Regions from separate parts of the Homo sapiens genome. Here region 1 is linked to region 2. Evidence: fine-mapped expression QTL. Tissue or cell type: cerebellum. Region 2 holds a variant in brackets; the other region holds the start of a gene. All regions are shown on one strand. Distances are from middle to middle.

Region 1 (2,914 bases), 27 kb before region 2:
TCACAAAGTGCTGGGATTACAGGTGTGAGCCAACGCGCCAGGCCGAAAATATTTTATAATAAAGTGACTGTTGTAGATCAACTTTATAATACAATGCGGATTCTCAATTCTTATAACAAAGACTAATGTACATAAATTTCAGTATGTTTTAAAATTAGCCAGTACTTAGTAGAAAGCCCATATAGTTTACTGTAGCACTTCTGCACTTATAGTTTAGGTCTATCTAGATGTATGACTTCTCAGATGCTGCCGAATATTGACCTTTTGCATGGTATTCAGTCTTTGAATTTTTATTTCATAATATGCTGGAACCACGATATTCTATCTGATCAGCAACTGGTCTGGTATCTGGGGCTCATAATTTTCTTTTTCCGCTTCATATTTCAGACAATTGAGGACGACTATAATAGTTTCTCATTAGAAATACATGCTAATAAACATCATGTCTTTGGTATTAAGTGGCAATTAGATGAAACAACCTGAAATTCTGTCTGATACCAAGATTGAACTTTGCTGAGATTACTGTTTCACTCACCGAAAATATCAGAATACTCAAGGGAGTTATTTTTTTTCTTAATGTAACTTTCATAAAGGAAATGAAAGAAATGTGGAGACTGAAAACAGTTGTCTGGTGTCTCAATACTGCATGCAGGTTCAACTACATTCTAAGCAAGTTGACTGTTATAATACATTTCACATTTTCTGTGATTTTGTTTGTGCTGAGACCTTATGCAATTACAAAGCAGATTTTTTACACTAACCTACACTGAGAAAAGAAAACCACCGTTCCCCTTTTAAACAGGAGAGTGCCTCAAGTACACTCGGGATCCCTCTCACCAAGCACAGCAAGGCTTGTGACTTCAAGCACACCAAGCTTGTGACTTTTTCTCCTACAAGGTGCACCTCGTTTTTTCTTACTGACAAATTGGCTTTAAAGTAAAGTTAGTTCCCTATCACACTGGCCCCCAAGACTCCAACTCCTGCTTCTCTTGGGATCTCTGCCCAGAGTCCAATCTCCCCTAAGGCGTGGTGCAGTGCTGTGCCCACACCTAGGCTCTGGGGGTGGGCACCCTTTGACTTTCCTCATATCATTCCACCCTCGACACATCCAAATGTGAACACATCTTCTCCACAAAGTGCCCCTTCACCACGCCAGTTCCCAGACACTTTATTTCTTCCCTTGCCTAGAGTGCTGCCCCCAAAACCAGCCCCCCATCATTGGCCATGTCCTTGCAGAGGCTGAACCATCCCACAATCTGTCAAGGATATCAGGGAAGAGCATGAGCTGGATAGACTTCAGGCTCTGCCAGCAGCTACATTCTAGGGGTGCCCGGACGTCCTGGTCTCTTGAGATGAGATGGTCTTGTGTCTGGAATTGGTCTCACTGACTAAAAGAATAAAGCCGCAGACCTTCACAGTGAGTGTGACAGTTTTTAAAGATGGTGTGTCTGGAGCTAGTTCCTTCAGATGTTTGGACGTGTTCAGTTTCTTTCTGCTGGTGGGTTTGTGGTCTCGCTTGCTTCAGGAGTGGCTGCAGACCTTTGTAGTGAGTGTCACGAGCTCTTAAGGTGGTGCGCCTGGAGTTTCTCATTCCTCCCAGTGGGTTTGCCATCTCACTGCCTTTAAGGAGGGAAGCTGCAAAGCTTCGCGCAGTACGACAGTTTCCAAACATGATGCAAGCACAGCTTACCACGGTTGCCTCCGCAGCCCGCTTTTATTCCCTTATCTGACCCCACCCACATCCTGCTGATTGGCCCATTTTACAGAGAGCTGATTGGTCCGTTTTGACAGGGTGCTGATTGGTGCATTTAGGAATCTTGAGCTAGACACAGAGTGCTGATTGGTGCATTTACAATCCTTTAGCTAGACACAAAAGTTCTCCAAGTCCCCACTAGATTAGACACAGAGCACTGATTGGTGCGTTTACAAACCTTTAGCTAGACACAGAGTGCTGATTGGTGTTATAATCCTGTAGCTAGACATAAAAGTTCTCCAAGTCCCCACCAGACTCAGGAGCCCAGCTGGCTTTGCCTAGTGGATCCTGCGCTGGGGCCGTGGGCAGAGTTGCCCGCCAGTCCCACACTGCACACCCACACCACGCACCAGCACTCCTCAGCCCTTAAGCATCGATAGGACTGTGTGCTGTGGAGCAGGGGGCGGCACCCCTTGGGCAGGCTCAGGCTGCTCAGAAACCCACGGCGGCTGGGGGGAGGCTCAGGCATGGTGGGCTGCAGGTCCCGAGCCCTGCCCCGTGGGGAGGCAGCTAAGGCCCAGTGAGAAATTGAGCGCAGCACCGGTGGGCCGGCACTGCTCGGGGAGCCAGAGCACCCTCCACAGCTGCTGGCCCGGGTGCTAAGCCCCTCACTGTCTGGGGCTGGTGGGGCCGGCCAGCCAGCTCTGAGTGTGGGGCCCACCAAGCCCACGCCCACCCGCCAAGCCCACGCCCACCCGGAACTCTAGCTAGATCACAAGTGCCATGCGCAGCCCCAGTTCCTGCCCCTGCCTCTCCCTCCACACCTCCCCGCAAGCTGAGGGAGCCGGCTCCTGCCTCGGCCAGCCCAGAGAAGGGCTCCCACGGTGCAGCGCTGGGCTGACGGGCTGCTCAAGCACAGCCAGAATGGGCGCCGAGGCCGAGGAGGCACCGAGAGCGAGTGAGGGCTGCCAGCACTCTGTCACCTCTCACTACCGCACTCTGTCCTACCCTCCCATGCCCCTCCAGCACCCTGATCCTACCTGCACCCCGCTCCTACTGAGAGGTGAAGCCCGGCTGGGCTTCTGGGTTGGGTGGGGACTTGGAGAACTTTTCCCTCTAGCCAAATGTTTGTAAATGCACCAATCAGCAGACTGTAAAAACGCACCAATCAGCACTCTGTGTCTAGCTAAAGGTTTGTAAGTGCACCAATCAGCACTCTGT
Region 2 (2,914 bases):
TCTCTTCTCATTACTCACACAACAAAATTTAGCTGAGGGAGATTGAGTGACTTTCCCAGGGTCGCACAGTTACTAAGAGCAGAGCCGTGTTTAGATTCATGTGGGAATACTGAACGCTGAAATGAACGAGCAGAAATATCCTACGTTCCAAAAGCCTACTCAAGCCATTTGTTCTTAAGGAAAATCTTTATGCTAATTTTAAGCTCCAAATACTTATGAATGGCAGAGATCTACAGATTTCATTCTGATGTAAGAGATGATGCTCACCAGCTGGTTACTGCTACCACCCCACAACCCCGAGCATACTGGACAAATCTCTAAGCCTCGTTGTTAGTGCAGACAATGCTGGTGGAGTCTGAAGTTGTCATGCAGTGACTCACTCAAGCTTAGGCAGATTTGATGATATATGACACAGAGATGCAAAGAAATGCTGTAGCTGACACACAGAGGCTGGCTCTGGGAGATGCAGAAGGAGCATGTCACCCAAAATAAAGCCAGACAGACATCCTTAAGGAAGGAGCAAAGGGGCTGCATCTTAAAGAATGAAGAAGAGATTTGTCATGAGAGATGGGACAGGAAGTTCTTGAGAGGCAGAGGGAGAGCATGAGAATGTCGGGAAGGGAGGAGAGATTCTTGCACATCTGGGAAGCTGACAATCCATCGGCATTGTCAGAAGGAAAATAAGGAGGAGGAGTGGAAATAATAAAAGCAGGGCTGTGTGTTGATTGTGGTAAAGAGTTGTGATTCTATCCAGAAGGCAATAGGTAGCATTCTAAAGAGAGATCTTCTAAAACAAGAGTCAGCAAATATTTTCTGCAAAGGGCTAAATGTTAAATATTTCAAGTTTTCCAAGCCATGTTGTCCCTCTCTCAATGACTCAGCTCTTCCATTATACCATGAAAGTAGCCAGAGACATTGTATAACACATGTATGTGGCTGTGTCCCATTACAACTTTACTTACAAACGCAGACTGTGTCAGACCTGGCCCATGCATGGTAGTTTGCCACACCCTGTTTTAGAAAGCTCAGGTTTATGATGTGATGGAGAATGCCTACAAGAGCTCTTGTTTTAAATGGTAGAGTGAACATACACTGGAATTCTATCCTGCTTGACCCAAGCTCTTGATAG[C/T]GAAAGGTAGAAAAGATAGATGGTAAATAGATAGATAGATGATAGATAAAGAAAATACATAGCTGTTCCAGAAAACAGAAATGGATAACTTCATGAACCAAAAGCAGAGTAATATACTTTAGAAAGGGAGCAGGCTGGAAAACTCACAGTTGCAAAGCAAATAGAATTTCCAACTGCCTCTTGTAGCCCCTTCCTGGAAGTAGTCACAACCCAGGGTGTTTCGACTTCTTCCCCTGTTTTTTGTTTGTTTGCTGTTTGCTTTTTTGTGGGTTTTTGTTGTTGTTGTTTGCTTTTTTAAAAAAAATTCCCTTTCCCTGCTTTTTTGTCACAGCAGTCTTTGTCACTTCAAACACCACAAGTTTTCTTTTTCAAAAAATTATATCAACCTTTCAATTAAAATGCAACATGTCTGAAACTTGATATCTAGAGAGGTGATATGGACAAAGGAGCCCTTGTTACTGCACGTTTCTGTTCTCCAGACTTCACCTTGCACACAAGAACAGACAATGCACAAAACCACTTCCTTATGGACTGAAATTCTGAAATCCTTTTATGACTGGCGTTTCCTAACCCTTCAACTTCCCCTCTCCCATGCTGTGAATGATTGTATTGGACATTTTTGTTTTAATCTCAGTGACAGGGGAACACAGGTAGCTCTAATATAGCTGTGACCCAGATGCTTCTGTTTCTACCATGTATTTATTTTGTAGCAAACATTTACATCCATCGTTTTTCACTGTCTTTTGAAAATAATTAGGGAATATCTCATCTGAGGTAGGATGTTTCTAGTGGTTGTGTTCTGAAGGAGGAAAAACTAATCTGTTCTCTTTCCACTGCATTCCAGGAACAGTGAGAGGACCTTGTGCATGAATAATTTGTTTCCACACTACAGAGTGGGTAATAAGCAGATTAGTAAAAACAATTCTGCTTCACTTCAATAACAGCCTCCTCCAACTCATTTTTTCTCAACAAACTTATTTTTCCAGCAGAATAATCCCAGACTTCTTAAGAGAACCCAGTGACTTTTCGCACCTTAAATCTGTGAAATCCTGTTTTCTTACGCCATATGCATAGTTCAAACATACAAAGATGATGCAAAGCCAGACGCATTCCTGAAGGAGCCTAAGAAATTCCTCTCTTTCTGTCTCTGGAATGAAATGAATTCTCTAGACCATCAGTTCTAACCTTCAGAAACCAAACCTGTTTGTGAGATCTCCTTCAAATGCTACTGTAGACTCCAGTGTTTATTCATTAAATTTTTAAAGTATTTGTTTTATTTGGAATCAGTTTATTTGTAATTTTAGTATTTGTATTAATACAAGGGAGAAATGTTTAAGTCTGTCTATGCCATATATGCCTCTGGCTTATTGCCCAATTAATTGTAGCCTCAGGCTAAACTTTGGTTTCTGTTTTTATTTTTTTCAGGACAAATATAACTGATCTCAAAACATCTGCTTTTATTGTAGGGGCTTGTGCTGCCATCTCCATTCCTCTCTCTTTTCTTGCAATCTGGGTGGAAGTTCTTTAATATGAACATTTCAACCACCTTCATTCTACCATGTCCACTATCAGCACATTCAAGCTTATCCAGCCAAGGCTGTCATCTTAGGCCAGGGATTTTTTAGGAATCTATTTTGCTGTGATGCAGCTGGTACCCCTTTGATTCACTTTATCACTCCAGGGTTTTTTTTCATTTTAGGAGCCCAAGAAGGCAGAAAAAGAAGTAGGTGAGCAATTAAACCCTCTGAGTAGGAGCGTCTCCCCTTGCGTTAAACAATGTTGTAG

Evidence for each region. PIP is the estimated chance that this variant, and not a neighbour inherited with it, causes the effect.
Region 1: LIRIL2R starts here. The variant in region 2 is fine-mapped to the expression of LIRIL2R in cerebellum (GTEx, PIP above 0.99). The same link has a PIP of 0.9 or more in caudate, cerebellar hemisphere, cerebral cortex, hypothalamus, nucleus accumbens and putamen.

What each region holds. Positions count from the first base shown.
Region 1 is chr6:179,169-182,082 of GRCh38, reverse strand. LIRIL2R (lincRNA regulator of IL2RA) reads right to left here and starts at 1,688. Exons shown (of 2, transcript XR_926349.3): 1 at 1-1,688. LINC03066 (long intergenic non-protein coding RNA 3066) reads left to right here. Exons shown (of 8, transcript NR_126020.1): 8 at 388-617.
Region 2 is chr6:151,951-154,864 of GRCh38, reverse strand. No RefSeq gene overlaps it. Among named protein-coding and RNA genes, the nearest start is that of LIRIL2R, 27 kb to the left of the region's middle. The variant C/T (reference allele first, on the strand shown) is at 1,130.